Homo sapiens: one gene and its partners. The protein of the gene in region 3 interacts with the protein of the main gene of each other region in a biochemical or structural test. Each region holds a gene or a part of one and is shown on either strand. Other genes may lie near its edges.

The links.
Region 1: of the proteins of MCM6 (region 3) and CDC7, one has a biochemical effect on the other in vitro, tested with the Homo sapiens proteins (2 studies listed by BioGRID).
Region 2: of the proteins of MCM6 (region 3) and DBF4, one has a biochemical effect on the other in vitro, tested with the Homo sapiens proteins (2 studies listed by BioGRID).
Region 4: the proteins of MCM6 (region 3) and RNF125 form a complex in vitro, tested with the Homo sapiens proteins (one study listed by BioGRID).

Annotation. Positions count from the first base shown.
Region 1 is NC_000001.11:91,496,684-91,503,852, reverse strand, and holds the start of CDC7 (cell division cycle 7-related protein kinase), read right to left. Parts: upstream 3,003-7,169; 5' UTR 2,905-3,002; exon of another isoform or gene 2,200-2,904; 5' UTR 2,137-2,199; coding exon 2,022-2,136; intron 1-2,021. UniProt on the Homo sapiens protein: Kinase involved in initiation of DNA replication. Phosphorylates critical substrates that regulate the G1/S phase transition and initiation of DNA replication, such as MCM proteins and CLASPIN.
Region 2 is NC_000007.14:87,893,468-87,900,494, reverse strand, and holds part of DBF4 (protein DBF4 homolog A), read right to left. Parts: intron 4,022-7,027; coding exon 3,985-4,021; intron 3,202-3,984; coding exon 3,156-3,201; intron 275-3,155; coding exon 146-274; intron 1-145. UniProt on the Homo sapiens protein: Regulatory subunit for CDC7 which activates its kinase activity thereby playing a central role in DNA replication and cell proliferation. Required for progression of S phase.
Region 3 is NC_000002.12:135,866,417-135,873,443, reverse strand, and holds part of MCM6 (DNA replication licensing factor MCM6), read left to right. Parts: intron 1-600; coding exon 601-747; intron 748-3,082; coding exon 3,083-3,193; intron 3,194-4,583; coding exon 4,584-4,833; intron 4,834-6,715; coding exon 6,716-6,881; intron 6,882-7,027. UniProt on the Homo sapiens protein: Acts as a component of the MCM2-7 complex (MCM complex) which is the replicative helicase essential for 'once per cell cycle' DNA replication initiation and elongation in eukaryotic cells.
Region 4 is NC_000018.10:32,014,741-32,021,849, reverse strand, and holds the start of RNF125 (E3 ubiquitin-protein ligase RNF125), read right to left. Parts: upstream 3,026-7,109; 5' UTR 2,987-3,025; coding exon 2,823-2,986; intron 1-2,822. UniProt on the Homo sapiens protein: E3 ubiquitin-protein ligase that mediates ubiquitination and subsequent proteasomal degradation of target proteins, such as RIGI, MAVS/IPS1, IFIH1/MDA5, JAK1 and p53/TP53.

The DNA of each region.
Region 1 (7,169 bases), on a different chromosome or scaffold from region 3:
TTTTCAAAAACAAAAACAAAACAAGATCCCAATTTAGTTTCTAAAAAATGTACCTATGTATGCCTAGAAAGGCTAAAGGAATATAACAAAATGTCAACAGTGGCAATATTTCAATAATGGGAAAAGACTTTATTTTGGCTTTCTTTACTTCAAAAATTTCAATAATCATGTTTATCAGAAAAATGTTATAAAAATCTGACAAATATCTCAAAATAAAGAGACATGCTATTCATCCATTACACTAAGTATTTTACTTTATATCCTTACATTAAATCATTCATTCAAATATTTTCAAGCACCTACTATGTGCTGGACACTGTTAAGCTCTGGGAATGCTAAGATATATAAAACATCCAATCAAAAATATAACTTCAATAAGGAGTAAAGTTGATGAGGTGCAGGCATATACCTGTCTCATGATCTAATTTGATTTACTTTCCCAATTAGATTACTAGACTGTTATGTGCCTGGACCTCATCAGCTTTGCTCCCTATTGAAGTTATGTTTATATAACTTTAGCTGTTATTAAGATCATATTTAAAAAAGAACCATAAGAGTAAAGTTTTAGCACGTTTTATAATTTATCATATTATAATGTCCAATGTTCTGTTACATAAACGCTACAAAACTTTTGAAATCCGTAATAAAATTCACCCCATTCATTACTTCCCAGCAGATTTTCAGAATATTAGAATAGTGGCATTCTCCTAAACATGATGCTAGAACCAATTCAGAGTCATCCATTCAGATACTCTGCTGAAGTCACAACATACTTTAGAAACCAGAGGAGATACTGCCGCCAAGGGGTTTACAGTGGAGACAAAATGCAGAGTCCTAAGCAATAGAAAAAGAATACTACAATGACTGTGTTACTGTGTTATGTGTCCAGTGACTAGTAAGGGAAAGATGAACTAAAAAAACAGCTAACTGCTGGAAAAATGGAAAGGAAGAGGAACAGTATCCATGAAACTGGATGAAAGTGGCATTTTAAGATTATTCTAGCACCAACATACAAGATGAACTGAAGAATGGAAAAGTGCAAGCAGGCAGCATAGGTGAGAAACTGTTGTAAATCAGGAACAAAGTGTAAGGAAATTAATTAATGTGGTGGAAATGGGAATGGAAAGAAGACACAATGCCATACTTACTAAAAAGAAATAAAGCTAGGTGACGATATGGGGAACAAATAAAAAGCATCAGCTGAAGATTAAAGTTTCAAGTTTAGGTAAGTGGGATAACTGACTTCCATCAAAGCAGAAAGTATGTGATGTCATATTTTTCTAGGGTGGGGTTATAAAGAATATATGGACAAAAGGTCAAAATAAGTATCTTTTAGACAAGCACAGAATTCACTTAAGACAAAGATGGGAAAGATGATCTGGCTACCCTTTCAGAAAAAAAAAAATACAGTCAACTAGAATTCCTCTATTTAACAAATATTTATTATTAACAAATACCTACTATGTCCCAGGTCCTGTGCCAGAGCAGAAATGAAGGTACACATGCGAGTGTACAAGAGCAGGCACTGCTTGACCCTGTCTTATTCACCCTAAGGTCTGGTTTACGGTCAAAGAACATTTCATGCTGTACACTGAGATATGGTGCTTTATTATTGCTACAAACATTTCATATTTTTTTGTCTGTGAGTTCTGCTTTTGAATACTTAAGTGATGATCTCCAGTGTCAATTTCTACATTTAAGCTTAAGGCAATGTGGTGAGTAGAGATAAGAACACAGATACAAAAGAGAAATTTAATTTGGGCATCATCAAATTTCTGCATTCTTAATTACCAATACTGAGACCATAGCAACTTCAACCGTAAAACAGGTTGTATTACAGTCTTCCAAATCGCAATTCAGTCCTACATTTAGATCATACGAAGCTCTGTTTTAACACTGTCCTATAGAAACATACAATTCACTTTATAAGATTCAATCTTATTTTTTGAGAGGAATTGAAAACACAGAATTGTTGCCTGAAAAATCTTTATAACTGTACATCTTTGGATTTAAACACGTACCTGCAAGTTTAAAATTCTGCTCGTTTTTTTTTAAAGAGCCTTCAGCCTGAAACCGGTCACGCTGGGGAGAAAAAGCCATTGGCTCATCCATCTGAATCCCCAAAGACGCCTCCATCACAAGCCAATTGAGATGCAAAATGCCAGCTAAGGGGTTACATCCACAGGGGGAGCAAAGCAGCTGTGAAAATTAGAACACTAGAGAAATTTAGATCACTCGCTAAACCACGCACTAAAAACATGCTACTGCCCCCCAAAGGGGCAAACATTTTCAAACGCACGATGTGTCCAAACCTCCACAGTAGGGCATACTGTGGCCTTGTCTAAGGAATTCCATGTGCTTTATTTTCACCTATCAGAAACACCGGCAGGGGGCTGCAGGGAGAATTTCCCGGCTTGGGCACCCGCGCAGCAGCAGGCGCAGTGGGAAACGGCGAGGCTGCCAGTCCGGCACAGCCAGCGGGACCGCGTGGGGGAGGGGCCGAGCGCCGGGGGCGGTTTGAAGTCAGGAAAAGAACTGAGGGAGAAAACCTTTTCGCCACTGACAGGAAGCGCCAGGAGGCTCGTCCAAGGCCCCAAGCAAGTTGACGGAGAACTGATACGACCCTGGCCACGAGTACTGGGCGGAGGAGGAGAAGGGTGAATGAATGGGAATCCGCCGGCCAGCGCTGGCCGCGAGCTCAGCCGGGAAGGACCGGCTTCCCTCGGGCCAGAGACCGAACCAGATGCTTAGTGCGCAGGCGCGCGACTTTCCCGCCGCAGGTCGGAGGGATCCGAAGGGGGGCGGGAAAAGGAACTGCACGGCGAGAAAACCGAAGTCACGATCCAGAATTCGTTCCTAATCCCTCACAATCCCGCGCCATGGAACAAACCGTCGGAAACTCACGGTTTAAGGGAGTACGACTTCTGTGGCTCCCCAGATGCCTGGGTCGCCGTCTCCAAGAGATCCCCACCTACCGAGTCGATCGGATGCGCCTGCGCAACACTTCCCGCCGCCGCTCTGGTTGCACATGCGCACACTAAAGCCCTCGACCCCGCGGATTCCGCTACTGGGCGTTTGCGCAAGAGGGTGGGGTTTCTTCCCGCCGCCTTGGCCAGCTAGAAGAGCGGTTACGGGAATGAAGCCCGTGGATGATCTTAAAAAACAGGGTGAACCATAAGGCTAAGGGCCCAGCATGATTTCCAGGAAAGAAGCTAGCTCAGAGAAGGAAAAATCTCAGGTGCTGACACATCCCTATATACGTGGCCGGCCGCACAACACATTGGGCACTCCATGGATAAAAGGCACTTTCTTGACTCTGCTTTTATTTCCTTTTCGTTGAGTGCCCTACTTCCCCGTTAAAAACAAGCAGAAAATGTAATTGCTGATTGTTTGTGGCTGTGTTAGTAGAAATTAGCACAGTGGCAGGAAGGCAGTGTATACTATTTACTGAGCCCTTGGCTATGAGGTAGGTGGGTTTTTCTAGGGGCTGGAATCATAGTGAGCAAGATAAACACCATCCCTGTAGGAAGCTAAATTCCAATGAAGCGATGACAATAACGGATGAATAAATGAACAGTATTCTTTCCGGCATTGATTACTACTTGAGGGAAATACTGACCAGGAAGGTGGCATCTAGATGGTCAGGGAAGCCCTCTCAAAGAGACCTGGATGAGAAAGAGCTGGTAGGGAGACTGTTGTCCTGGCAAAGAAAGGATAGGGCAAATGCAGAGAGAAAGAGGAACTTGGTATGTTGCAGGGGCAGGGCAGGAAAGGCCAGTGTGGGGGAAGCATAGTGAGTGAGCCGCAAGATAGTCCCAGATAGATGAAGGTGGAGAGTTAGGCAGAAGCCAGACCAGGGTCCTTGAAAGCCAGGGTAAGAAGTTTAGTGTTTGTTCTGAGTACAATTGGAAGCTATTTGAAAGTTTTAAAGCAAGGGAGTAATATGATCTATCTGTTATGAAGAGAATGGATTGTAGAGGGGCAAGTGTGGAAGCAGAGGAAATAGGATGCACTTTATGTTTAGGAGAAACATAATGGTAGTTTGGACCAGAACAATGGCGGAAGAAATAAAAGAAAGAAGACAATGGGATTTGGTGATTGGCTATGGAAAATGAAGAAAAGGGCATCATCAACAGTGAATCTTAGGTTTTGGGCTAGCATATGTGTGGGTGGTAGTGCCACATAGAAGGGAAGTCTGTGAGGTAATGGTTTTTGATTGAGTGAGGTGGAAGAGAGTAAATCAAGGATTCTAGTGTGGATACCGAGAAAGAGAAAAGCAGACCTTGACATCCAGGAGATGGCCTGGTACTACCAGCTTGGTTTGCTGTTGCTTTGAGCTGGCCTGGCAATCACAGCCAAGCATTGGTATTCTTCTGTTGAACATAAACAATTTCACAGAACATCAGACAAGACAGAGTTGTGACCGTGATAGATCAAGACAAAAGTAAGATCACTCTATAATCATATGTGAACACAGACACAACATCAACATTGCCCAAGCCATAAAAATGATCAAATATCTCCTTATCCTAGCTAATATGAGTGCCTGCTGCTTCTTTACCAATTATAGTTTTAACCTCAGTCTAGTCTTCCTTCCTTCTACATAATACTTATTAAAATACCCAATTATAGAATTATCCTTGCTTCCTTACAGCTTCCAATCCAGGCCAAAGTCCCTCTTTCTTGCACCCTTCCGTAAATCTCCTAACACAAACTCAAATTCTATAACAAGTCCTTTTTAACACCCTCTTCCTAAGACATCCCATGGTTCCCCATGGTGTGCATTCTCACGTACTGAAACAAGCAATACATCCAAGTTGCTCAGCTATAGTTGTGTTCCTGGTGGTCATTATCGGGAGGTCGTTAACAATAATCAAGTCCAAGATATGCAAGTGATGATGTCAAAGAAACAGATGAATATATTGGTCTGGGGTATAGTTCAGGGTGAAGAAATAAACTTGGCAGTTATGAATTTATAGATGAAACCTAGTCTTGGACTATACGATATTATCTAAGCAAAGATTGTAGATGGAGAGTTGGGCTATGATAACTTCCAACATTTCATAGTTGAGCAGAGGAGGAGGAAGAACCAGCAAGAGACTGAGAAGTAGTAGTCTGTGAGGTAAGAAGGTGATGTCATAGAAGTCAAGAGCAGAAAGTTTTACAATTAGAAGAAAGTGGTCAGCTATAGCAAATGCTTCACAGAAGTAGTGAGGATACAGAATTGATCAGAGATAGTCATTAGAGCCTTCAGAAAGAGCAGCTTTGGAGTGAGACAGAAAGACTATATTGAATTTATTGACGAACAAAAGATCTACAAATGGAGACAACTCTTGAGGTTTGGTTTGTTTCTTAGTTTGGTTTCTTGTCTTTATTGGGGGGTAGGGCGCACAAATAGAATAGTGGCTACAGTGTCAAATTGTTTATAAACTTTATACTAGCCGTGTAACTTGGGCAAGTTATTCAATATCTGTGACACTCCTATTTCAAAAATGTAACATGGATAAAATACTTGCTTGGTTTTGCTATAGGGATTAAATTAGATAAAGTGACATAATACATGTAAAGTGCTTGGTCCCATAGGCCTGGACATTGTTAGCTTGTATTAGTTAATTTATAATGGGTACTTTTTCCCCCTTTGTCAATGATCCCATCCCTAATACCTAGCACATGGCTGTTCACATAGTATGGATTTAATAAATGGCTATGGAATTAATGTACAATGAGAAGTTAGGTTTTATTTATTTATTTTTATTATTCATTCATTTATGTATTTACTTAGTAGAGACAGAGTCTCGCTCTGTTGCCCAGGCTAAAATGCAGTGGCATGATCATGAATCACTATAGCTCCGAGGCTCAAGCAATTCTCCTGCCACAGCGTCCCAAGTAGCAAGGATTACAGCTGTATGTCACCATGCTCAGCTAGACATTAGGTTTCAAATGGTTGGTTGCACTTATGTCTCCTGTAAGCAGATTGGAGGTGGAGATAGATTGTTTAATAAAAATTATTATTTAGAGATGTTGATAACTACATACACACAGTTTTCTTTAGGGTCAGACCAGTGCCTTTACCATTTTTCCTTCATAACATGTTTATTCTGCCTCCAGGTCTGTTTGTGCTGCATGTGCATGTGTGTGTGTGTGTGTGTGTGTGTGTGTGTGTGTGTGTGTGTCTTTTTGTCTTTTGTTTCTATCTCTGCATCCTCCAAAGTCAGTGAAGTTTTCTTTAGATAGCCTAGCCCAGGATCTGTCCCTTCCCTAACTCACGGCTGACCCATTATGGGCTGGAAGAAGTTACTAACTCAGAGTTAGCAAGAAAAGCCATGGACCTGTTTGTGCCAGTGAGATTGTGGATCTGTGCTATTGCAAAGGGATCCTGCCCTCCTAAGTGTCCTCTTGTCTTAGAGGGAGCACATGAGAACAATCTTATTAGTAGACTTCAAACTACTTAGGCACCAGGTAATCTGCATTTAGAAGCCAAGTGATTCTAAGAGTTGTCTGGGAAAACCAGATGCCCAGCTACTGGAGACCTTGAGGCCTGTGGAAATTTGAGTTGGGTGCAACTTCTCACTCTGGGAGAAATGGGGAGTCTCTGGTCAGTTGTACGGTGAACTCAGAATAGGTTCCCAGAACAACTTTCAAATAATTTTGCTCATCTCTCTCTCCATGAATGTCCCTACTAAAGGACACACCCCGCCCCCCCACACACACACCAAAAAAAAAAAAAAAAAAAAAAAAATGACTAGGAAAGAAAGAAATGACAAAGGAAAAGTTAGTGGAAGTCTTATCCCCCTTTCCACTATTATATATATAAATAGCTGACACACTGTCTTAGAACCTCCTATCTTTAAGGAATTTATTAACCTAGGATAGAAATAAAGCAGACCGGGTGTGGTGGCTCATGCCTGTAATCCCAGCACTTTGGGAGGTTGAGGCGGGCAGATAGCTTAAGTCCAGGAGTTTGAGACCAGCTTGGGCAACATGGTGAAATACTGTCTCTACAAAAAAATACCAAAAAATAAAAATAAAAGTAAAAAGGATTAGCTCAGCATGGTGGCACATACCTGTAGTCCCAGCTAATTGGGAGGCTGAGGTGGGAGGATTGCTTGAGCCTTGGGGGTTTAGTCTGCAGTGAGCTGTGATGGCACCACTGCACTCTAGCCTCGGTG
Region 2 (7,027 bases), on a different chromosome or scaffold from region 3:
GATTCAGACTTATAAAAGTAATCAGAATAGTAATTACAAACACAAATAACCATTATGGCATAAATGAAACTATTTCAAATCTTTACAAAGAAAAATTGAGATGAAATTCTGAATATTCCTTCTAAAAGTAAAGATTCAAACCAACCTTAGTTTAACCTGAGTTTGCTTTTGCATACTAGATGGCTTGTCTACATCAAATGGACTGCAGGGCTTCTGAATAGAATAATTTATAAAAGGCATATTGGTCAGCTGAAGATAAAATGGCCTATAAAGTCTAGAAGAATAAAAAGACAAATACATGAGATTCTTTATGATTAAAGAAAAAAGGTTTAAAGTTTTGTATTTCAAAATCATATAATTAAGCTGGAATCTGAAATAACAAATTATTTAGGCTTTCCTTCAAAAAATCAATTTCAGGCCTAACAATTTTTAACATTTAAACATTTTTTAAATTGTGGTAAAATACACATAAAATTTATTACCTTAACCATTTTAAGTGTACAATTCAGTTGCATTAAGTATTCACAATGCTGTGGTACCATCACTGCTACCGTCCATCTTTTGTAAGATGACGTATTTTCATCTTGCAAAAACTGAAACTCTATACCCATCAAACAGTAACTTCCCAAATATCCTTTCTCCATATCCCCTGACAACCACCATTCTACTTCTTGTTATCAGTTTGACTAACGTAGATGCTTCAGGAGTGGAATCATGCAGTATTTTTTGTCTTATTTCACTTAGCATAACGTCTTAAAGGTTTATCCATGTTGCACGTGTCAGAATTTCATTCCTTTTAAAGGCTGAGTAATATTCCATTGAGTGTGTGTACACACACATCCTGCATACTGTTTATCCATTAATTTGCTGATGGACTTGGATTACTTTCACTTTTTGGCTGCTTAATAGTAGCCATCCTAAATAATGTAAAGTGGTATCTCACTGTGGTTTAGATTTGCAATTCCCTCATGATTAGTAATGTTGAGCATCTTTTCATATGCTTATTGGCTATTTGTGTATCACCTCTGGAAAAATGTCTATTCAGCGCTTTGCCCCTTTTTAAAATTGGGTTGTTTTGTTGTTGACTTGTAATTCTTAATATATTCTGGATATTAACATTTATTAGATATATGACTTGTTCAACCTGAGAAAGCTGAAAAAAAGAAATAGATACATGACTTGCAGTATCTTCTTCCATCCTTTCGGTTGCCTTTTTACTGTTATATCCCTTTAGGCACAGAAATTTATATTTTTGATATGGTCCAATTTAATTATTTTATCTTTTGTAATCTGTGTTTTTGGTGTCACGTCCAGGAAAGCACTGCAAATCCAATGTCATGAAGCTTTTCCCCTGTGTTCTCTCCAAGAGTTTTACCATTTTAGGTCTTTGGTCCATTTTGAGTTAATTTTTGAACATGATGTGAGGTAGGAGTCTAATGCCATTCTTTTGCATGTGTATATCTAGTTTTCTCAACACTGTTAAAAAAGACTGTCCTTTCTCCATTAAATTATCTTCATACCCTTGTTGAAAATCATTTGGCCATATGTGTGATGGTTTATTTCTAGGCTCTCTATTCTATTCCATTCGTTTATATGTCTTTATTCCAATGCCAAATTGTTCTGATTTCTGTAGCATTACAGTAAGTTTTAAAACCAGAAAGTGTGAGACCTCTTACTTTGTTGTTCTTTTTTTTTTTTTTTTTTGAGACGGAGTCTTGCTCTGTCCCCCAGGCTGAAGTGTAGTGGCGTGATCTCGGCTCACTGCAAGCTCTGCCTCCCGGGTTCACGCCATTCTCCTGCCTCAGCCTCCTGAGTAGCTGGGACTACAGGTGCCCGCCACCAGGCCCGGCTAATTTTTTATATTTTTAGTAGAGACAGGGTTTCACCGTATTAGCCAGGATGGTCTCCATCTCCTGAACTCGTGATCTGCCTGCCTCGGCCTCCCAAAGTGCTAGGATTACAGGAGTGAGCCACCGCGCCTGGCCTTTGTTGTTATTTTTAATGATTGTCTTGGGTTTCCTGCATCTGTTACAATTCCGTATGAATTCTAGGATACGTTTTTACTATTTCTGCAAAAAACATCATTGGGATTTTGATAGGGATTGCAGTGAATCTGTAGATCACTTTGGGTGGTATTAACATCTTAACAATATTATATCTTCCAATTCATGAACATGGGATGTCCTTTCGTATACTAGTGTCTTTTCTAGGCCTCCTTTTGAATTGCACTTTTTTCTTCACAGCAACACATTTCATAAAAAGCAGTTTTCAATACACTTTTGTCGCCTCAGTGTGAGTACCCAAGAGAATTAACCACAGATGTCTAAATGAATAAGTGGAAAGAAAAAAGAAAGTAATCTAATTCTCTCATGGCAGGCCTATTTATATCTGTGGTCTTCATTAAGATTATCCCACATGGCTGGGCACAGTGGCTCACGCCTGTAATCCCCGCACTTTGGGAGGCTGAGGCAGGCGGATCACTTGAGGTCAAGAGTTAGAGACTAGCCTGGCCAACATGGTGAAACCCCATCTCTACTAAAAATACAAACATCAGCTGGGCATGGTGGCGTAGACCCATAATCCCAGCTACTTGGGAGGCTGAGGCAGGAGAATTGCTTGAACCGGGGGTGGGGTGGACGTTGCAGTGAGCCGAGATCGTGCCACTGCACTCTAGCCTGGGTGACAGAGCAAGACTCCATCTCAAAAAATCAAAACAAACAACAACAACAACAAGACTATCCTACAATACTTCAGAATTTTGGAAATCAACCATGTTAGATGTTATACTTAGATTTTCTGTTTCTAAATAGCATCTAATAATTTCTTTTTCGCAAATGAAGGCGTAATCTTTCAGTAGTTCTAAATCATTTGGTACTGCATTTAGCCAGAGAATAATTTAAATACTAAAAAAACGGTGTCATGATTTTTCTAAACCAGCTATTTCAGGAATATCTACAACATACTGAAACTAAATTCAGTCCTTGAGCACAAATGAATTAATGCTACTTTCGTTAACTTGTGCCGCATGCACATTAGTATAATATAAATCAAACACAAAGGAACCTAACAGTACTAATCGAGCTAGCCTAATTAGTTAGGTGATTTTCCTCTTTAGTATTGCACTTAAATCATACAGATTGGACTTAAATACTTACTGGCTCATATCTTCCACCTTTACAAAAGGCTTTTTGAGTCTTCCTGCTTGAGAACATAGAAAACATATTAGATACTTGCAAATTCAGGATTCTTTTTTTTTTTTAATAAAACTACTGTGGCAAAACAAAACCCTCCAAACAAAAAACTATGTATCCACTTTAAAGTTTTAAGCCTCAGATGAGGTACTTCCATTATCACCTCATTTCCAAAAATAACAGAAGCTCTCTCCTATATTCTGAGATTCTTAAACTAAATGGAACCCTCAAATTAACAGGATTCAGGAAGGTCATAAATTAGAACAGGAGAAAAACTACACTATTGTCTTCACTAACCTCAAACTGAAATTTAGCATTTCCTTCAATTATAAATGTAACAAATCACACTATTCGCAGTACCTGCGACTTTGATGCTAATAGAAACTGCACATATTTTCATCAGTTATGAACTGCTTGAGCAGATATCTCAAAGCATTGTTTACGCTTATCAATTCAAAATGAAGTGGCAATTAGATTCACTGCTAGAATCTGTTCTGTGTAATAAAAAGCAAGTTATCACTATTTCACAATTAAAAACTATTTTGGTAACTACATTTTAATATAATTCATTTTCTTGGTAGACTAATGATTTTTAAAGGAAACGTTTTAAAAAAAACATCATTCTGAAAATGCGGTCCACAGGCTTCACCAAACTTCACCAAGGATCTATGTTCTATAAAGACGAAGAAAGCCTTGAATAAATCATTTAGAGGGTGGTTTATATGATTTTAGAAGATCTTTTATGATTTTTCAAATGCAAACCAAATACACTTAAAGATCACAAAATACTTACTTCTTGTTTTTTGTGCACCACTACCAACTCTTTTGCCCTAAAAAAAAATATATAGTGAAAAGATTGGCTTTGAAAGTACAGTTAAAACAGCAACTGCAATTGCTCAGTATCTTCAAGATAAAAAAATCATGCAGAAAAGTGCTATATCAAAGAAGGATTATTCTTTGTTAAAAAAAACTATTGTTTTTAAATGTTTTACAATACACTCAGCAAGTACCTTGCATTCTAGCTATAATTGATTTTGACTTCATAAAAAGAAAACCAATAATGAAAAGGTAGTTAATGAAATGTTTTTTTAAAAGTCATATTATTTTTATGCCCTTATTCAGCAAAATCTTTGTATTAAATTGAATAAAGAAATTAGTCAACATTTATTAGTCAGTCAATTTAGGCAAAGATTCAATATGTTAAAGATGGATAATCAACTCCACTGATTACAACTAGAAACTCTGGACAACACTGAATAAGCAACTACCTGAAGAATGAAAAGTAAAATAAGCAGGCAGATTGTGGAAGGAAGTCAAAACTGGAACCTTCAGTCATGGAGTTAGCAGCAGTGGCAGAGCCAGCAGCTAAAACTCCTATCTTTCTGGCAGGAAGAACCAGGAATGAGGTTCAAGTGGCCAAAAATACCAAGAGAATCCCTGTATTATTTTCTTTTCTCCCACAGTTCTGCCCTGAGGGTGGGTCCCAATTAGGAGGCTGAGATTGTAAAGGTAGTACAAGCTTAAGCTAACATTGAGAAACCCTCACTTTCTGACTAGAAGACCTGGGAAAGAGGCCACTGCAAGCTGGAGATTGATCCATGAAAAGAGCAAGTTAGAGAAAGGGATCCCTAATTCCCTATATAAATCCATGCAAGTGCAGGGCTTACCTCCAAGTTGCACATGCTAAGGATAGACCCAACGCAGCATAGCAAGGGCTTTGAAAATTGAAACTGAGATTAGATCCACCCCACCCACAACCACCAAGACAGAACAGTCTGAACAAAACTGGGATGACTGTCCGCTAAAACAATGGCAGAAACAAAATCAGCATCCTACAGACTATCAGGATATAGGGCCTACACAACATTTAGAATGTCCAGTATACAGTCAAAACTTAAATTTCACATGTAAACAACCAGAAAAACATTATCAATTTTTGAGAGAAAAGGACAATCAGATGCCAACCCCAACATGTTCCTGATATTGTAATTATTAGAAAAAGACTTTAAAAGTAAAGGTAAACACACTTAAGATGAATGGAAAGAGACAAATTCTCAGCAGAAAAACTACAAATAAGAACCAAACAAAAATAATAGGACTGAAAAATATACTATCTGAGTGAGATAACAAAATTCACTGGATAAGCTCAATAGCAGAACATGTATGACACAATTAAGTATTAGTGAACTTCAAGACAAATGAATAGAAATCTCCAATTGGAAGAAAAGAGGAAACAAAAAAGACTAAGGAAAAAAGGAAAAGAGCCACAGGGATCTGTGGAATAACATCAAGATGTCTAACTTTATTGTCAACTGGAATGGTGGAAAAAGAGGGGAGAGACTAGTGAAGAAAAAAAATTAACAAAATAATAGCTGAAAACTTTCCAAACATAAATTTACACAAATCAATAAGCTCAGTGAACCAAGTGTAGGCACAATCGAACTTCTGAAACCAAAGATAAAGAAAAAAATCTTAAAAGCAGCCAGAGAAAAATGATACAGTAGATATAAATGAATACCAATTTGAGTAACTGCAGATTTCTCGTCAGAATCCATGGAGACCAGAAGACAGTTTTAGGACAAGAGTAAGGTGCTGAGACAAAGAACTCTCAATTCATGATTCTTTTTCCAGTAAAGATATGATCACATGAAGGATATCTCAGAGAATTCCTTGTGCCACCAGATTTGCTCTAAAACATGCTAAAGTAAGTCCTTCAGGCTAAAGGGATATATCCGAAGAAAACCTGTAATTTCAGGAAGGAAGAGTAATGGAAAGGTTAACATCTGGGTTAATAGGACTATTTTCCTCCTGTCGCTTTCTTTAAAACCCAACTTTTTTTTTCTTTTTTTTCCCCGAGACAGGGTCTTGCCCTGTCGCAAGCAGTGGCATGATCTTGCCTCTCTGCAACCTCCGCCTCTTGGGCTAAGGCCATCATGCCACCTCAGCCTCCTAAGCAGGTGGGACTACAGGCGCATGCCACCAGGCCTGGCTAATTTATATATATATTTTTTGTAGAGATGGGGTTTCACCATGTTGCCCAGGCTGGTCTCGAACTTCTGAGCTAAAGTGATCCACCCACCTTGGCCTCCCAAAGTGCTGGGATGACAGGTGTGAGCCACCAGGCCCAGCCCTAAAATATGACTTTTTCAAGCAAAAAGTTTAACATTGTCTGGTGACATTTTCATTATAAGAAGATGTACTAAACATTATGGCATAAAGGTTGGTGGGGAAGGTAAAAGGGCTTGAATATTTTAAGGCTTCTACATTTTATTTGAAGAAGGTAAATATTAATTCAAGATAGATTGCGAAAGGTCACACATGTATATCGTAAATCCTATAGCAACCACTAAAATAAAACAACAAAAATGAAGAGAGTTAAAAAGCTGGCAGATCAATCTGAAAGAAGGCAGGAAAGGGGGAAACAGAAATAAAATACAGAGGGCATCAGCAGAAAACTAACAGTAAGATGGTAGACCTAAATACAAGATCAATAGTTACATTAAGTATAAATCACTTAAACTACCAATTAAAAGACAGATTGCCAAATTTGATGAAAAAGACAATATCTGCAAGAAGTCCATTTTAAATATATAGATATGTTAAATGCAAAAGACTGCAAAAAGTACTATGTAAATACTAATAAAAATAAAGCCAGAATGGTCTACATCAGAGAGCAGACTTCAGAATAAGAATTAACAGGGACAGAAGAGAGAGCATTACAGAGGCTAGAAGGGTCAATTCACCAGGAAGACATAAGAAGGCCGGGCGCGGTGGCTCACGCCTGTAATCCCAGCACTTTGGGAGGCCGAGGCGGGTGGATCATGAGGTCAGGAGAT
Region 3 (7,027 bases):
ACACCTCATTTCCATGTATTCTTATTTCTGTTCTGCTTCTTAAATCCCTGACTAATTTGTTAGTTTGCAAATTCCCTACAGAAATGGAATCATTGGGTTTGAGACTGAATTTCTTGATTTAACATTTTCCAATCTTAATTATACATGACAGTAGTAAAAGAAGAGTTAGTTGTTGGGTTTTTTTGTTAGTTAGCAGTTAAACCTCACAATCATGGTGGAAGGCAAGGAGGAGCAAGTCACTGATGTCTTACGTGGATGGCATCAGGCAAAGAGAGCTTGTGCAGAGGAACTCCTCTTTTTAAAACCATCAGATCTCGTGAGACTTACTATCAGAGAACAGCAGGGGAAAGACTTGTCCCCATGCTTCAATTAACTCCCACCAGGTGCCTCCCACAACATGTGGAAATTCAAGTCGAGATTTGGGTGGGGACACAGCCAAACCATATCAGAAGGGAGGAGTAACTTGCCCCAAGTTACAGAACTGCCAAACATGGGCCTGTCTGAGCCTAGTTGTTGGACTTTAACCAATGTTCTGAATTATCATTCAGGTTCTTTGTACTGCCTGTGTCCTTAATCTAGTTGACTCGAATGTACCTGCAGGTTTCAGAGCAGCGATGGAGAAATTAAATACTTGCAATTAGCAGAGGAACTGATTCGTCCTGAGAGAAACACATTGGTTGTGAGTTTTGTGGACCTGGAACAATTTAACCAGCAACTTTCCACCACCATTCAAGAGGAGTTCTATAGGTATGGGCATATTAATCTTCTTTACTTTGAATAGGGGTTGAAATCCGGGAAGCCAGCTCTTCTTGGACTGTAAGTGTTCACTTGTGTAGCAGAAGGTCAGCTTTCACAGTTATTTCCCACTGAGAAGAGGCGCTTTGATACTGCCAGTGGTCGTTTTAGTACTGCTCTGAACTTCATGTAGGCCTTTGTAGAGCCGAACGTTTTTTTGTTGTTGTGTTTTGTTTGTTTGTTTGTTTGTTTGTTTTTTGAGACGGAGTCTTGCTCTGTCACACCTAGGCCGAAATGCAGTGGCGCGATCTTGGCTCACTGCAACCTCTGCCTCCCGGGTTCAAGCGATTCTTCTGCGTCAGCCTCCCGAATAGCTGGGATTACAGGCGCCCACCATCACGCCCGGCTAATTATTTACATTTTTTAATAGAGACGGGGTGTCACCATGTTGGTCAGGCTGGTCTCGAACTCCTGATCTCAGGTGATCCGCCCGCCTCGGCCTCCCAAAATGCTGGGATTACAGGCGTGAGCCACCGTGCCCGGCCAGAGCTGAACTTTTTTTTTCAAATACAAATGTTGAAAATCTTTGCTTTCTATATAGTTTTCCCAAGAGGAAAACTGTACTTACTTACTTTTGTGTCATTCCATTGATCCTTTTTCCCCACAGGAATAGGTGTTTGTGTGGGTCCTTTTCTTGTACTGGGGATATCTTTACAGCATTGACGTTGTTGTACTTCTTGTTCCCTTAAAGTTTAATTTTGTTTTCGCTTATAAAAGTAATAGGTATATATTGTAGAAAATGGAGAAGAGTAAGGAGAATTAAATTGCTTATACACTTGTAATCCACCACCGTCATTAGCAGATCTGCTACAACAGAGTTCCAGGAGCCTTCCAAGTCTGCAAGTGCAGAGTTTTGTAAGGATCTTCTGTCACATTTTGATGTCTTTGTGTGTATGCTGTGTATGAAATTACTCAAATTCATATAAAATTTCTTAAACTCATACTAATAGCTCCAATTGTGGTTTTTTGGTAGAAATACTATGGTTAGACATTATATTTAATAGAAGGCTTTTATTTTGTTTTGACTTGTTATATATAGCAAGAAACATCTTTGCACACAAGACTTTGTATTAGGATTAAATAAATGTGACAGTCTATAGAAATAGAATCAGGTTAAAATAAATTGTGGACAGTTGTGAAAGATAAATGAAAACCCAGGGATAAGGAGGCACAGTCTCGTTCATTTCTTAGTAGATTAGGAGATGGAGGATTTGTCTGTGTTTCTGGTCATAGCTGATGATCAAGAATAATTGGAGGGGGTAAGTAAGCAACAGGATTTATTGTGAAAGCATGCAGCAGTAGAAGTTATAGCACTGACAAATAAGGGAGAGGTAGACAATCAAGCCTGGTGGTAGAAGCAGCTGTGCCATGCCTCATGCACAAGCCAGGCAGCAGTTCTCTTTCCTGAGAGTAGCGCCTTTTTTAGAGGGTTTCAGACCCCACTTCTTAAACAAACTAAGCTGGAGTAGGTATTAGAAACATATCAAAAGGACATGCATACTTCACTCTCACCAGTCAAATGGAGCATTTTTGCCAATTTGTTCTCACATTAGTGCACAAATACTTCTCCTGTCCTCATCCATTTCTTATCAAACCAGCCAGATGTGGTGGCTCACACCTGTAATCCTAACACTTTGGGAGGCTGAGGTGGATAGATCACTTGAGCCCAGGAGTTTGAGACCAGCCTGGACAACATGGTGAAATCCCATTTCTACAAAAAAAACCCCACAAAAATTAGCTGGGCATGGTGGTGCATGCCTGTAGTGCCAGCTACTCAGCAAGCTGAGATGGGAGGATCACCTGAGCCTAGGTAGATTGAGGCTGCAGTGAGCTGTGATCGTGCCACTGCACTCCAGTCTGGGTGACAGAGTGAGACCTTGTCTCAGAATGAAACCAAAGAAATTGACTGACTTGACACATGACTTACTAAGTCATAAACAGCCCACAGAAAATTCACAGTATTGAGCATAATATTGACAAGATGATTGTTCAGCTAGTCATCTTGGACAGAGGAATGGCCAACAGTGTGGGTGCTGTATGATTATTTATGTGCTATATGATAATCAGGTATGGTATGACATTTTATATTTAGTGTTCCGGTGGGATAGGAGAGAACTGAAAGAGGGTCCTAAACCTAGAGTAGATAATAGAAGTGTCCTACACAGTTAAGTTCTAAGGTTTAGTTGTAACCAGATGAAATTCCTTAATCTCGGCTGTTGGTAGGTATGTAAAGGGAAGGAGGCCTTGGTAAACCTCTAAGGTATCAGCTGACTTTTTTGTTTTTCAGAGTTTACCCTTACCTGTGTCGGGCCTTGAAAACATTCGTCAAAGACCGTAAAGAGATCCCTCTTGCCAAGGATTTTTATGTTGCATTCCAAGACCTGCCTACCAGACACAAGTAAGAAACCCTTCTCTGGAAAAAAAGGAATTCACCAAATGGTATAAGTACCACTTAGCTGACAGTCAGAAAACTTGAGAGGTTGCCTTGATCTGCTATTAGCTGGCTATTTAACATTATACAAATCACTTTTACCTCCCTGAGCCTCAGTTTCCTTGTCTGTGAAGTCTTTTGGCTTAGGTTTTCTACCTAAATCATGCAAAAAATAGGTTTGTTGCTGTAAAATTACTTTTTCATAATTGATAATCACAATAATTATAAAACAAGTACTTATAAAATTGATGCTGTAAAATACCAGGAGGAAAAAATAGTGGTTTGCATTCAGATTTTGTAGAAGGTTGACTTTTGTAGGAGTTATACCCACTTATCCAGAAAGTTTAGTGTTGGAGAAATGTATTTTCCTATGGAGATGGGATTAGATGTAAAGGGAGTGAAGCAAATTTTTAGGATTATCACATTTTAGGGCGCCTTTTAGGGAAATTTGGGAGAAAATTGATCAAGGGAGAAAATATGAAATTCTAGAAATTCCTGAATCTCTGGAAATTTTTGTTGGTTTAAATGCATAATTTTCAAACACCCCTTTGGCAGTTATTTTAAGAATAAATTTACTGGATAAAATTGAAGTGATATTTTGAAAAGTTAAACTACTGAAATTATAAAATTACCAAATTACTTCACATAAAATGGGTTTGTAAAGGAAGTGTTTCTGAACTTTGAGTACAAAATTTTTTCTCATGATAGGATTATTATGTAACACATGCTTTTTTTTTTAGAAATTGCGGGTAAGCAAAAAAGTATTTGCATATAAAACAAAAACAGGATCATTCTGTTTTTGTTTTTTTTTTTTTCTGAGACAGAGTCTTGCTCTGTCACCCAGGCCAGAGTGCAGTGGCACGATCTTGGCTCACTGCACCCTCCACCTCCCGGGTTCAAACAATTCTCCTGCCTCGGCTCCCCGAGTAGCTGGGATTACAGGCGCCCGCCACCACGACTGGCTAGTTTTTGTATTTTTAGTAGAGGTGGGGTTTCGCCATGTTGGCCAGGATGGTCTTGATCTCTTGACCTCATGATCCGCCCACCTTGGTCTCCCAAAGTGCTGGGATTACAGGTGTGAGTCACTGCGCCCAGCCCGTTCTGTTTTATAATTTTAATTTTCATTTTTTTGGCATCCTTTAGTTCATTTATATATTTTGTTCTGGATACATATACGTCATATAATTTAGGATTGGGCACGTTGACTAAATTATTCTTATAGGAGAGTCCAAAGAATACCTTGTCTCTTGAATTTTTTTTTTAAACATAAATTATCTTTGAATACCCTCTCACTAAAATGGAAAGATTCTTAGTTAAGAGATGAATGTTTACTAATGGGACATTTGTCTTTAAACAGGATTCGAGAGCTCACCTCATCCAGAATTGGTTTGCTCACTCGCATCAGTGGGCAGGTGGTGCGGACTCACCCAGTTCACCCAGAGCTTGTGAGCGGAACTTTTCTGTGCTTGGACTGTCAGACAGTGATCAGGGATGTAGAACAGCAGTTCAAATACACACAGCCAAACATCTGCCGAAATCCAGTTTGTGCCAACAGGAGGAGATTCTTACTGGATACAAATAAATCAAGATTTGTTGATTTTCAAAAGGTATTTATTTAACATCTGTTTAGATCAGAGTCCATCTATGATAATAATTCACTTCTAGGCCCTTGCAATAGCTTATTTAGATAATGTTCAACTCAATTTTTATGTAAGTTAAGCATCATCAAAATGACTACAAAGTTAAGCCCAAAACTGTTCATGTAAATTATAATTGTTAGTATATACATTTGTTTTAACTTTCAGTAACTTGGAAGTTCCTTAAGACTGACAAGATGTATTTGTCAAAGAATAAATGGTAACTAGGTGGTGGTGGTTGTCATTATGAACTGGAGTTAAGAAAACTTAAAGAAATAGCAACTTGTTAGTGTAAGATTTCCATTTGCTGCATAGAAAGGAAAGCATGAATAGGACAGGCTAGCTTGGAAGCAATGAGGATTATCATGATTGAAGTAAAGGAGCCAAATTGGAGATCATCTGAGAGATGATTTGATGTGAGACCTGGAGGTACTTGGATCCCTAAATCTTAGGCTGAGGAGTTTGAGCCTATCTTAATAAGCAGTGGGAATATAGTGGGAAGGTAGTTTGTGTGTGTGGGTGTGTGTTTGTTTTGTTTTGTTTTTTGTTTTTTTTTGAGACAGTCTCTCTCTGTCACCCAGGCTGGAGTGCAGTGGCGCGATCTCGGCTCACTGCAAGCTCCGCCTCCTGGGTTCACGCCATTCTCCTGCCTCAGCCTCCCGAGTAGCTGGGACTACAGGTGCCCACCACCACACCCGGCTAATTTTTTGTATTTTTAGTAGAGACAGGGTTTCATCGTGTTAAACCAGGATGGTCTCGATCTCCTGACTTCGTGATCCGCCTGCCTCTGCCTCCCAAAGTGCTGGGATACAGGCGTGAGCCACTGCACCCAGCCTGTGTGTTTTTTTTTAAAAGCAAACTGAATAAGTCCGTGATGGGTTTAACAGAGGGTAATAGGCAATTTCAGTTACCTGGGCAAGAGGTGATGGATGGCAGTAGTAAGAATGAAGGGGACCCTCAGATTTCAGCAGGACTTAATTTTATGGGACATACAAAATGGAAAGAAAAGCTGAAGCAGCTCAAGTATGGAATAATTATTATCAGATGAATTTAATATTATTTATATTGCTCTGATAATCATTCTCCTTATTTGGCTTTCTTACATTAACCTGGTAGCTTATAAGATGCACATATTTTACCAACAGCTTTGGGTAGGAGATGTCTTATCTTATAAAGTATGAATCTAGATTGGGTCTTAGTTTGGGGGGGGGAACACAACTGTATAAAGGACACTCTTGACAAGACATTTGAAGATGGACTAGATAATAGAAGATATGTAATTTTATGAAATTAAATATTGTTTAATTATCTTGGTTGTGATAATGATATTGTAACAGGATTGTCTTTATTCTTAGAGATGAATGCTAAAATATTTAGGTATGAAGTTTCTTGATGTTCACAACTGTGTTCAAATACATAGTAAAAAAACATGTATCTGTAAATAATGTTAGCAGTTGTGTTGAAGTGGAGGGTATAAAAGGTGTATTTGAAATTTTCTGTAAAATTATCTTAAAGCTTAGGAGAAGATGGAGCATGGAACAGATATTTGGAGTCATTTTGAACAAAGAAAAAAATTATTTTTTAATGAGTAAAAGTGAAGTTTTTTTTTTCTCTGCTGCTTGAATCATCATGGAGTTTTTAAATAGATGTAATCTCTTGCCAAATTGAACTATTTGACTAAAAGGAGTTTTAGAGTAGATAATTTTTAGGATAAATGTTGGTACATGTGAAAAGTCTGCTAATGGGTCAGATAGTTTAGAATACGTCCGTATTTGTGGTATTTAATTTAGATTATATGGCATCTGAAAGGTATTGCTTCTCATTCTTGGTTGGTTGTTTGTCTGTATTACAGGTTCGTATTCAAGAGACCCAAGCTGAGCTTCCTCGAGGGAGTATCCCCCGCAGTTTAGAAGTAATTTTAAGGGCTGAAGCTGTGGAATCAGCTCAAGCTGGTGACAAGTGTGACTTTACAGGGACACTGATTGTTGTGCCTGACGTCTCCAAGCTTAGCACACCAGGTCAGTAATCTGTGGCTCAAATTTAACAAATTCTCAGTTACCTAAACTGCACAGTATCTAGCTTCCCACATCTTCATTGTCTTCTTTTTGGCTACCAATCAGAAGCTGAGGAACGAAGTGTGATGAGAATAAAAACAAATTGGTTT
Region 4 (7,109 bases), on a different chromosome or scaffold from region 3:
TAGTTTCCTATTCACTTTAACAAAGAAAAAGATTAAACAAAAAATTTAACATTTTGCAAATTTATATTATCCTTTAGTAGAAGGAAAAATATTGTAAATGGTAAATTATAATATTCAAAGTCCAAACCGAGAAAACAATCTCCAGTCAGATCATTGAATAGCAAAGCGGTCTGTTCCAAAAAGAATCTTCAAAACGCCCACTGTTTATGTTTTGCACAACTTTAAAGTTTTAATGCTAATAATGACTCAATTTAAATGGAGATATCTTTAGGCTGTTATTGCCCTAAAATAATCAATATATTTTATGACTCACACAGCCCATCTTGGCTTCCAGACTGGCCTGTGGATATTATGTTAATAAGCTACATCTGGACAGCTGAGCAACAACATCAGTAATAGAAAGGAGGGTAAATTTAAGCCTCGAGTTTTAAGAACAAAGCTGAAACAACAGGCCTTGAAAATACAGCTACGGCCGGGCTCCATGGCTCACGCCTGTAATCCCAGCACTTTGGGAGGCCGAGGCGGGCAGATCACGAGGTCAGGAGATCAAGACCATCCTGGCTAACACGGTGAAACCCCGTCTCTACTAAATATACAAAAAAATTAGCCGGGCGTGGTGGCGGCACCTGTAGTCCCAGCTACTCGGGAGGCTGAGGCAGGAGAATGGCGTGAACCCGGGAGGCGGAGCTTGCAGTGAGCCAAGATCGTGCCACTGCACTCCAGCCTGGGCAACACAGCAAGACTCCATCTCAAAAGAAAAGAAAACACAGCTACGAAATAATGCCCAAAGCACTCTTTATTTATACATTGTGCAGGCTGCACACTTTTGTCCCTGGCTCACAGACGGGCAGTAGTGAAAACTGCTTTTCAGATACAAGGCTATAGGTATTAAGGATTACCTAAGTCCTTTCAAAACTTTCTTTTTTTTCTTTCTTTTTTTTGAGACTGAGTTTTGCTCTGTTGCCCGGGCTAGAGTGCAATGATGCCATCTCAGCTCACTGCAACCTCTGCCTCCCAGGTTCAAGCAGTTCTCCTGCCTCAGCCTCCCAGGTAGCTGGGATTACAGGCACGGGTCACCACACCTGGCTAATTTTTGTATTTTTAGTAGAGACGAGGTTTCACCATGTCGGCCAGGCTGGTCTCGAACTCCTGACCTCAGGTGATCCATCCACCTCGGCTTCCCAAAGTGCTAGGATTACAGGTGTGAGCCACCACGCCGGGCGTCAAAACTTTTGACTGCAAGTGCACAACATGTTTTTAAGGACTACCTAAATCCTTTCAAAAGTGGTCCTCAAAAACATGTTGTGCACTTGCATTCATAATAACGGTATTTCTTTCTTCCTGCTAAGCCAAATGCTGGTACAAGCCACTGTGGTATCACACATGGCTTCATCATACTATAGTCACCCTTCAAAGGACATTAAGTAGGCTTCCGCTCCTGATCTGTGCAGACACAACACACACACACGTATCCACGAAAAAAAATCAAAGCAAAGAGAGAAGGCTGGGTGCAGTGGCTCACACCTTTAATCCCAGCACTTTGGGAGGCCGAGGTGGGTGGATCAATTGAGGTCAGGAGTTCAAGACCAGCCTGGCCAACATGGTGAAACCCCATCTCTACTCAAAATTCAAAAACTAGCCGGGTGTGGGGGTGGGCGCCTGTAATCCCAGCAACTCGGGAGGCTGAGGCAGGAGACTCACTTGAGCCTGGGAGGCGGAGGTTGCAGTGGGCGGAGGTTGCAGTGAGCCGAGATAGCACCACCGCACTCCAGCCTGGGCGACAGAGCCAGACTACGTCTCTCTCTCTCTCTCTCAAACACACACACACACACACACACACACACACAGTAAACAGAGAGCACAAATTCACAGCTCCAACTCCACCAGTTATTCAAACACACATTAAGGATGTGCCAATTTTATATAGGGACTTTGTTTTTAAATTCTTCTTAGAAACGACCACGGCTTTGCACCAACTGTGAGTTTTAGCTAAGTACTATGCGGTTTTGAGAAAGTTATTTTACTCTGTAATTTCCGCCGGTTTGGAGAGACCGTGCGTAAAGCAGGTAGCCTGCCACCTCCTGTTACGTTGTGGCTGGGTTTTGAAGGAGTACATTCAGGGGCTTGGCGGCTAACGTCCAAGCCCCACCCTAGCAGGTTGTTAAACTCTAACAACTGTGGAAAGTCACTCGGAAGCTCCAGTTTGACTTGCCCTTTGAGGGGCTGGGTGTCTGTGTTGGGAAAGGGTAGCAGGGGTGGGGGTGGAAAGACACTTTGCACAGATCCTTGTTTGCTTAAGACGAGCCTCTGTGGGCATTCTGGGAACACGTGCACAGCTCCAGCAAAACAAAACGGACCCGGGTTTCTGGGGCAGAGGGAAGCGCAGCCCGTTCTACCGTGTTCAGCGGGGTAACTGCGCTTTGCGGGAGCCCCTGCCTTGTAGCTGGAGCTCGTTTCCTTTCCGTGCCTGGGCGAGCGCTGGTTCTCCAGCCAAGAGCACCCTCCCCAGTTGGCGAGCCCTGGCTCTGGGCGGGACCCGTGCCTGGATCCCCTTCTCTGGAGTTCCGCACCTGGGCTTCGGGAGCTGAAAGCGCAAGGGGGCTACAGGACCCGCTTGTTTATTTTTTCTCCTCCCGAAATCCTGTGTCACCTTCCGACCCGCGTTTTCCCCGTGGTCCTGCATCCGACGGGTCCAGGTTTCTCCCTGCAGCAATTTCCTAAGAGGCTGTCTTCCGTCCCCCTCCTTCCCCACACCATGCCCTCAGCTTCCCCACATCGCCCTCCTTAGGGGTGGGCGCAAACCGAGCTCCCCTGGAACTTACACGTGGCCACAGCGGGTCCGGACAGGCTGGTGTAACACCTCAAGGCACACGGCGCAGTCGAAGGACGTGACGGGCAACTCCGGGTCCCTCCTGCGCTCCAGGGCCCGCGCGGTGGCAGAGGCGGGCGCCGATTTGCCGCTGTCGGTGCTCAGCACGGAGCCCATCGCTGTGCCTCTCGCCCAGACAGCTGCGAAGCACTCAGTGCCTGCCGCAGGGTTGTTTTGTTGCCGTGCGGTGGAGGAAGGAAGTCCCGGCCCAGCTGCGATCGCCGCCTCCCAGCTCTCCCAGCTCGCGCAGCCCAGAAGCCACCTCCGCCGCTGCGCCCAACCCTGGTCTAGGGCAGGGCGAGCGCGCGGCCGCGGGGCTGAGATCTTCGGCAAGCCGCCTAGGTTAAGGCGCGGAGGCGGAGGCGGCAGCCGCCCCGTGCTCTGTCTTGTGGTATTGGGAGGATTGAAACCTGAAACCTCAACTGCAGAGAAGAGGACTTGAGGCAGCAGTAAACCTTCCAAGCTATCACACACAGCTGCTTTCCCCACTGTCAGAAGTTAAGTGCGGGCGTGGCCATGCTTAATGATAATCAGAGAACAGCCGCTTTTAAGGTGAAGTGGAAGACCATCCTCCACTGTTGTCATCACAATAAGCTGCAAAAATGACCTATGACCTATGATTGGGCGTCTCCTAAGACGGTGCTATCGCTACTCTGTCATCCAATCAATAGTCCATTAATGGAGAGATAGCCTGGGTAGTGGAAAGAGTCCTGGAGATTAGGATTCCAATCTTACCTCTCCTACAGAGATTCTAGTGCTAAACCCTGCCATCTCCAGTTTCCTCTGCGGCTCAGGATTTCCTCTGTTGTTTGTACGCTCCCCACCCCGCCCTTTAAACATGATCAGCCAGGCGCGGTGGCCCACGCCTGTAATTCCAACACTTTGGGAGGCCGAGGCGGGCTTGAAACTCCTGCTTGAGGGCAGGAGTTCGAGACCAGCCTGGCCAACATGGTGAAACCCCGTCGCTGCTAATAATACAAAAATTAGCCGGGCGTTAATTTACACTTTTTACGAAGACTTATTTAGTGCCCACTGCACGCCAGACTCGGTTCTAGTGATGAAGACACAATCGTCAACAAGCAAACAAAATCCCAGTTCTCACAGAACTTACTTTAAAAAACAAAAACAAAACTTTGAGATAATTATAGATTCACATACAGTTGTAAGAATAGTACATAGTATATAATACACATATACAATAATATATAATATAACACATGGGATATAATAACGCATATAATACATGTACGTATTTAGCAGGCCATAAACTTCACCCAGGCTTTACTTTTAATTAGGAGATATAGGCCGGGTACCGTGGCTCACGCCTGTAATTTCAGCACTTTGGGAGGCTGAGGTGGGAGGATCACTTGAGCACGGGAGCCAAGATCACACTACTGCACTCCGTCCTGTGCGACAGAGTGAGACCATGTCTCAAAAAACAAACCAAGCCGGGGCAGTGGCTCACGCCTGTAATCCCAGCACTTTGGGAGGCAAGAAGGACAGATCACCTGAGGTCAGGAGTTTGAGACCAGCCTGGCCAACATGGTGAAACCCTGTCTCTACTAAAAATACAAAACTTAGCTGGGTGTGAGCTACTTGGGAGGCTGAGGCACAAGAATCGCTTGAACCGGAAAGGTGGAGGCTGCAGTGAGCCGAGATCATGCCACTGCACTCCAGCCTGGGCAACAGAGGGAGACCCTGTCTCAAAAAACCAAAACAGGCTGGGTGCAGTGGCTCACGCCTGAAATCCCAGCAATTTGGGAGGCCGAGGCAGGTGGATCACAAGGTCAGGAGTTCAAGACCAGCCTGGCCAACATAGTGAAACCCCGTCTCTACTAGAAATACATTTCTTTAGTAAAAATTTTTGTACTAAAAATACAAAAATTAGCCAGGTGTGGTGGCACATGCGTGTAGTCCCAGCTACTTGGGAGGCTGAGGCAGGAGAACCACTTGCACCCAAGAGGTGGAGGTTGCAGTGAGCCGAGACCATGCCACTACACTCCATCGTGGGTAACAGAGCGAGACTCTGTCTCAAAAACAAACAACAAACAAAAGGAAGATACATGTAATCAATCCATAAACAAATGAACAAAATCATTTCAGATAATCAGAGCCATGAAGAAGATAAAACAGTAAATGGCAATGAGGAGAAGAATAAGCTCAGAGAAGAATTTTTGGATGAAGTGACATTTGAGCAGAGCCATGAATAATGAAAAGAAGTGAGCCATTCAAAGATTTAGGAAAAAGCGTGGACTGGGAACAGTGAATGAGGCAGAACCAAAGAAAGGAAAGACCTATGGAGCTGGAGCATGGGTGGTGGGGGGCAGGCGGTGGGGGGGGGGAAATAAGATGAAAAGGTAGTTATTCCCATCTTCAAAAGGAAAACAAAAACCTCCCTTTCATCCCACTTATGCCTCAACTCCTGCCCCATATCCGCTTCAAGGCCAAATCTCTTGATCTGATCCTCTACATTTTGTCATCATTTCTTAATTATTCACTTCTTATTCAGTCCAGTCTGGGTTCTGAACCAACCTCTCCACCTCCATCTGTCCAAAAACTGCTTTATTATCAGTGTCACTGGTGACGTTCATGTAACTAATTCCAATAGATTCTTTTCAGCTATTTTTTTTGCTTGACCCCTCAACTATGTTTGTTAGTGCTGACCATCCCCTCCTTCTGGAAACACTCTGACTTTCCCTCTTTCTTTCTGGCTATTGTTTCTTCTCCCTTGCCAGAGTCTCCTTCTCCACTGGCTCTGGGCTGGAGATCCTAGGATTCTGTCTTAGGACCTTTTCCCTTCTCCTCTCTCTCTCTTTCTCTCTTTCTCTTTCTCTCAAAAATCACACAGGTTCTGTCACTATTTCGGTTCCAAAAACTTTCACATCTTTATCTCTACCCCAGGCCATTCAAATGTCCAATAGCCTAATAGCTTACATGACTGACCATTTGACATAAACACCCTCAGCCCAATGTCTCCAATAATGAACTCATTATAGTAGCAGCCTCCTCCAGTGGTTGATCTCTCTTTTAGCAAATGGCACTATGATCCACTTTATAGCTCAGTCTAGACACCTGGAAGTCATCCTTGATTTCTTCCTCTTCCTCATTCACATTGAATCAAGCATAATCACAATCCTGCCTCCAATATGTATCTCAGTAGTTCTTTTTTTTCTGAGATGAAGTCTCTCTCTGTCGCCCAGGCTGGAAGTGTGCAGTGGCGCAATCTCAGCTCACTGCAACCTCTGCCTCCTGGGTTCAAGTGATTCTCCTGCCTCAGCCTCCTGAGTAGCTGGGATTGCAGGCGCATGCCACCACACCCGGCTAATTTTATTATATTTTTGGTAGAGACGGAGTTTCACCATGTTGGCCAGGCTAGTCGTGAACTCCTGACCTCATGATCCGCCTGCCTTGGCCTCCCAAAGTGCTGGGATTACAGGCGTGAGCCACCATGCTCATTTTCTTCTATTTCCATAGCCACCGCTTATTTTAAATCACTGCATTCTCTTGTGTGACTTAATGGCAGTAGTTCCTAACTGCTCTACCCGCATCCATCATTGCCTCTCTCCAGTTTATTATCCACATGGCAACTAAAGTGATCTTTTGAAAAGCAAACATCTTGTGTCACCCCATGCACAAAATCCTTTAATAGCTCTCCTAATCCTTAGGATTAAATTCCAAATCCTTAATATTATCTAAAAATTCCTGCAAGACTTACTTTTGATGGCAGGAATCAGAAATTCAACTAAAAGTGCCTCGTTCAGTAAGGATATTTATTATCGACCAGCTCAGTGGCTTACACCTGTAATCCCAGCACTTTGGGAGGCAGAGGCAGGCTGATCATGAGGTCAGGAGTTCGAGACCAGCCTGGCCAACGTGATGAAACTCCATCTCTAATAAAAATACAAAAATTAGCCGGGCATGGTGGCACACACTTGTAAGCCCAGCTACTCAGGAGGCTGAGGCAGGAGACTCGCTTGAACCCAGGAGGTAGAGGTTGCAGTGAGCCAAGATCATGTCACTGCACTCTAGCCTGGGGCAACAGAGCAAGACTCTGTCTCAAAAAAAAAAAAGATATTTATTATCGAATATGGCAAACTAGTCCAGGTGTAAACAGTTCCAGAGATGTCTCAGCAGCTCAATTATGTCCTCACAGCCTCAGCCCCTTGCCATCCTCAGCATGTCTCCCTTATGGCTGAAACAGTCAATTCTATACACAACCTCCAAAAACAAAAAGGAAAGG